Regions from separate parts of the Homo sapiens genome. Here region 2 is linked to region 1. A link means that fine-mapping ties the variant in region 1 to the expression of a gene that starts in the linked region. Tissue or cell type: sun-exposed skin. Region 1 holds a variant in brackets; the other region holds the start of a gene. All regions are shown on one strand. Distances are between the middles of the regions.

What was found. PIP is the estimated chance that this variant, and not a neighbour inherited with it, causes the effect.
Region 2: it holds the start of KCNJ11, and the variant in region 1 is fine-mapped to the expression of KCNJ11 in sun-exposed skin (GTEx, PIP 0.99).

Annotation. Positions count from the first base shown.
Region 1 is chr11:17,496,726-17,499,461 of GRCh38, reverse strand. It overlaps USH1C (USH1 protein network component harmonin), which reads left to right. Exons shown (of 27, transcript NM_153676.4): 24 at 1,191-1,300; 25 at 2,649-2,704. Among named protein-coding and RNA genes, the nearest start is that of ABCC8, 21 kb to the right of the region's middle. The variant G/C (reference allele first, on the strand shown) is at 1,267.
Region 2 is chr11:17,387,473-17,390,088 of GRCh38, reverse strand. KCNJ11 (potassium inwardly rectifying channel subfamily J member 11) reads left to right here and starts at 1,430. Exons shown (of 1, transcript NM_000525.4): 1 at 1,430-2,616. The coding sequence starts at 1,998. RefSeq lists silencers at 350-449, 530-1,039 and an enhancer at 2,248-2,616.

The sequences.
Region 1 (2,736 bases):
GACTCTGTCATGGATTTGTACAAAATGAAAAGGTGAAAGTCACCCATCCCCAGTTGCACTGCACAGAGGCAACTGCTTTCTGTGGTTTGGTCCTGCACTGCTTTGAACATAACTAGTCACTGATGAAGCTTCCCTAGGAGCACGTGTGTTTTAAGCCACCATGGCCACCATTGTCAGTATCATACACCACATTCCTATGGGCCTTCATGCCACAAGGCTCCTGGGTGATCTATTTCAATGTAACCTGGAGAGTGTTCTGTGGACATCAGGACTGGGAGAAATTCCTCCAAAAAGGGCTCTGATGTCAAAGAGGTGTGGAAAACCACGCACAATCTGTCTACCTCTTGGAAAGCTGCAGTGCATGTTAGCACATTCAAGACTGACAAATCCTGCAGTGAGTAGCTCTGTTCAGCTTATAACTCAGCTTTCCCCAAAATTATTAGATCCCAGGCAACTCTTTCAGGAGCACCTTATTACAGCTTCATTTATTCAACAAATATCTACTGAGGTCCTATTTTGTGTCAGGCATTATGTTAAGTGCTGGGGATATTATGGTGAACCAAAAAGACAATCCCTGCCCACGTGGAGCTGACAGTGTGGTGGGAGAGACCATCAGTAAACAAACAGATTAATGATTACGAATTGTGGAAAATGCCAAATAAGAAAAGATTGGGATGCTGTGAGAGAATAGGCAAGATCTACATTCGACTGAGCGGGGGTCAGAGAAGCCCCTTCTGACATTTCCTCTCAGACCTAGAAGAAGAGAAAGCAAGGTAGGGAACAGCGACATGAAGCCTCTGAGGCAGGAGAGAGCATGGCAGCTCAGGGACCTGAACAGACCAGCATGACTGGCAACAGGGAGGGCCGGCTGGCAGAATTGACTCAGGCCTCATACTGTGCTGGAAATGCAGGTCTGTGTCCCTCTGTAATAACAGAGGCTCATCATCAATGATATCCAGGTTCTCCTGAGCTGGGGTGAGGGGGTGTGGAAGGGACAGGGACTAAATGCCCTTTGACTAGCCACTAACCAGGTGGCTAGTTTCCCCTCATGCTTTCTGAGTCCACATGAGCTTTCAGAACCCAGGCTCAGGTCTCTTCTGCTGTCTGGCAATGACCCCCCTTTGCCAAGCCCTGGGCCAGGCACGTGTCACATACAGCCCAGTTGGCCAATCAGCCTCATCTGCCTGCAGGTGGCATTGTGAAAGGGGACGAGATCATGGCAATCAACGGCAAGATTGTGACAGACTACACCCTGGCTGAGGCTGA[G/C]GCTGCCCTGCAGAAGGCCTGGAATCAGGGCGGGGTAAGAATAAGGCCCCTCCCTCCTTTCCTCCCTCACCTGCCTGCCTCAAACCCTGGCCTCTGCAGCCAGGTCTCACAATAGGATGCCTCATTCCAGGGTGGGCATCTGGAGTCCAGGCAACACTTTGGTGACACCATACCCCATCCAGCCTGTGGTTTAAATCTGACAAGATGGGATTCAGAAAAATAGATGTCAATTCCTGACCTTGGATCCAAAAAGCCAGTGGCTTAAACAGACTCTTGAAGCCAGGGCATGGCAGGTCACCCAAGAAAAAGACTTAAGGTCTTTTCTAAGTGCACACTGAACAAGAATCAAGAGAATTCTGGGGGCTACCAGAAAGCATTAACAAAAGCAGAGAACCCAGGATGAAGGAGGGGCTGGTGGGAATCTGCTCTGCACTCATTAGACACCCACCTGGATCACGGCCACTGCATAAGATTGCCCAGGCTGTGCACTACATAATCTGAGGGGGTGCCCTTTTACAGACTGTAGTGTGAATGGTGCCTGCTCATGGTGTGCAATGCACAACCTGTGCAACTGTATGCAGGCAGCCGAGCCTGAGGTATTAAGTTCAGTGCCGAGGAAGCTGACCAGATGGGCCTGGGACCCACATGAAGGGATGTGGAGAAGAGAAGACTCACGGGTAACATGATGACTATCTTTGATTATCTGAAGGTCTGCATTAGGGCAGAGGGAGCAGAAGTGTTCTCTCTGATTCTTGAGGGAAGACCTGGATTGGATGGAGGGAAGTCCTGGGGAAAGAGAGAGAGATTTCAGCTCAATATTAGGAACCAGCTCATGGTAGAGGGGCCCAGTGATATTTCCAATACTTTTCAGGGGATACACCTAAGCCAAGGAGGGAGAATGAGGGGCAAGTCAAGGATGGCAGTAAAAGGGATTCAGGTGTTAGGATCAAAAAGCTGGGCCAGAAGTCCCCCACTTGATTGTGCATCAGAAAGTGCGTCGGAATTACCCAGAGAGGTTGTTAAAAGTACTATTTCCCAGGACTCACCCTTGACTTCTGGGGGCCAAGTCTACGAGCCTACACTTTTAAGAAGTTCCCCCAAGTGATTCTGAGGTTGCTGCCTGTCCCCGGTCCATAGATTGACATTTGGGAGCTGAGTGTCATTCAAGGGCCTTGCAGCCCTGTCCTCTATGGTCCCGAAGCCTCAGAGACTAGAAACGTCCTCAGACCATGGAAGTCACAGTGGGCCCCAGGTGGGCCCGTGGGAAGAAGGTGCAGCCTGGCTGATCCTAGGCCATGGGGCCCAGAAATGGGGATGGAGTGCCGGGGCAGATGCACCATCCAACTGAGTGTGCCCCAGAGTCACACGGCTTCTCCCCACAGGACTGGATCGACCTTGTGGTTGCCGTCTGCCCCCCAAAGGAGTATGACGATGAGCTGTAAGTGTGTGCAAGCACCTAGCCTGAGACCT
Region 2 (2,616 bases), 110 kb after region 1:
CCCAGTGCCCGAGGCAGCCCTAACACACTGTTCAGGCCTAAATACCACCCATGACCTAACGTGGAAGAAGTCAGGTGACAGGTGTGAGAAAGTGTAAAGCAAGTGGCCTCGGCTCAAACCTTCTTTAAAGTAGGGCCGGAATGGCTGAGAAGATGGAGCCGCCCAGGCTGCCCCACAGCAGTAGCAGGTGTTAAACTGTGCTCCTTTCCTGCCGAGGCCTTTTTTTTTTTTTTTTTTTTTTTTTTTTTTAATGAGAGGGAGTCTGAGCTTCCATCAGATTGTCAAAGGATTCAAGACTAAGATTAAGAGCATCCCCCAAAGAGAAGCAGCTGCAGGTTGAGAAGTCCTCGGACCGCCTAATTTCCGCCAGCCCTGGGATTGGTGGCGCCGCCTCTCAGCGCCTCCTTTCCCGGGGAACCTGCAAACCTGGCGCGGCCGAGAGGCGGATTACTGACCCAAATACGGATGGGGATATTGGGGGAGGGGAGCCAGGGCGACAGGGCGGCGGCCCCAGACTGGGAGGGCGGGTCACAGATCCCTCCCAGCCCCCCACTTTCGTAGAGCGTGGGCAGGAGGAACCTCTGGGTTCCGCGGATCAGAAAAACTCCAAAGGCCGGGTTGTGAGTCCCGGGAGGGGAGGTGGAGGGCGGGGGCGGGGAGGGGCGCGGGAGGGGCGGGGGCTTGCTCCGGCCCCGCCCCCTGCGCTCCGGTGCAGGTCGGGCTCCCCCTGGCGGTCCCCGGCCCCGTTCCTCTCCTCGTGCGCCCCCCTCCCGCCGTCCTAGACCCCTGCCTAGCCCAGGTCGGTCTCCGCGGACCCACGGACGGACAGACAGACGGGAGGACGGCCAGCCGCGAGCGCCCGGGCGGCGGGAGGGGGCGGGGAGGCGACGGCCGTGGCGTGAGGAGCAGGAGCAGGTGCAGCGGCGGCGGCGGGCGGGGCCGGGACCCGGCGCGGAGCGGGAGCCGCGGCGCGGGCGGGCGGCAGGGACCGGGAGGCCGCGACTCGGAGTCAGCCCCGCCGGGTCGCGCGCAGGTCCGGGGAGCCGCGGTTGAGCCGGGTGGGGTGGTGACTCCAGAGAACGCAGGATCCCAAGGAGACAGAGAGGACGAGAGCTGGAGGGGGATCCGGAAAGCGGCGGGGGCGCTCCGGGAGGGGTGGAGTAGGACATAGGGGGCGCACCTGGAGGAGAGACGGGGCGGGGGTGGCCAGGACCTGAGCTGGAGCCTGGGAGCCCGAAGGCCAGACAGGTGAGGCGGGAGACCCGGAGGTGGGGGTGAGGTCCGGTTAGTGGGAGAGATCCGGAGGTGTTAAGTTCTGAGCTGGGCTGGGAAGGCAGGCTGGGCGGGGAGAAGGGCTCTTAGCGGGAGGCCCAGGGGTGGTCAGCTGGTGGGGGAAGCTGGGGGAGGACGCAGGGCCAGGTGGAGAGCCGGCAGGGTTGGGGGCTCCCTAGGCGCCAGGCAGGTGGGCTCAAGGGTGAGGCTGTTTTTTTTGTTTTGTTTTTTGTTTTTGAGACGGAGTCTCGCTCTGTCGCCCAGGCTGGAGTGCAGTGGCGTGATCTTGGCTCACTGCAACCTCCGCCTCTCGGGTTCAAGCGATTCTCCTGCCTCAGCTTCCTGAGTAGCTGGGATTACAGGTGCGCACCACCATGCCCGGCTAACTTTTGTATTTTTAGTAGAGATGGGGTTTCACCATGTTGGTCAGGCTGGTCTCGAACTCCTGACCTAGTGATCTGCCCTCCTCAGCCTCCCAACGTACTGGGATTACAGGCGTGAGCCACCGCGCCCGGCCTGAGGCTGGTATTAAGAAGTGAAGTGGGACCCAGGTGGAGGTAAGGAAGAGTCTGGTGGGGAGTTATCTCAGAAGTGAGGCCAGCACAGGCTGAGTGCAGCCCCAGGGTGAGAAGGTGCCCACCGAGAGGACTCTGCAGTGAGGCCCTAGGCCACGTCCGAGGGGTGCCTCCGATGGGGGAAGCCCCTCCCTGGGGGTCACCGGAGCCATGCTGTCCCGCAAGGGCATCATCCCCGAGGAATACGTGCTGACACGCCTGGCAGAGGACCCTGCCAAGCCCAGGTACCGTGCCCGCCAGCGGAGGGCCCGCTTTGTGTCCAAGAAAGGCAACTGCAACGTGGCCCACAAGAACATCCGGGAGCAGGGCCGCTTCCTGCAGGACGTGTTCACCACGCTGGTGGACCTCAAGTGGCCACACACATTGCTCATCTTCACCATGTCCTTCCTGTGCAGCTGGCTGCTCTTCGCCATGGCCTGGTGGCTCATCGCCTTCGCCCACGGTGACCTGGCCCCCAGCGAGGGCACTGCTGAGCCCTGTGTCACCAGCATCCACTCCTTCTCGTCTGCCTTCCTTTTCTCCATTGAGGTCCAAGTGACTATTGGCTTTGGGGGGCGCATGGTGACTGAGGAGTGCCCACTGGCCATCCTGATCCTCATCGTGCAGAACATCGTGGGGCTCATGATCAACGCCATCATGCTTGGCTGCATCTTCATGAAGACTGCCCAAGCCCACCGCAGGGCTGAGACCCTCATCTTCAGCAAGCATGCGGTGATCGCCCTGCGCCACGGCCGCCTCTGCTTCATGCTACGTGTGGGTGACCTCCGCA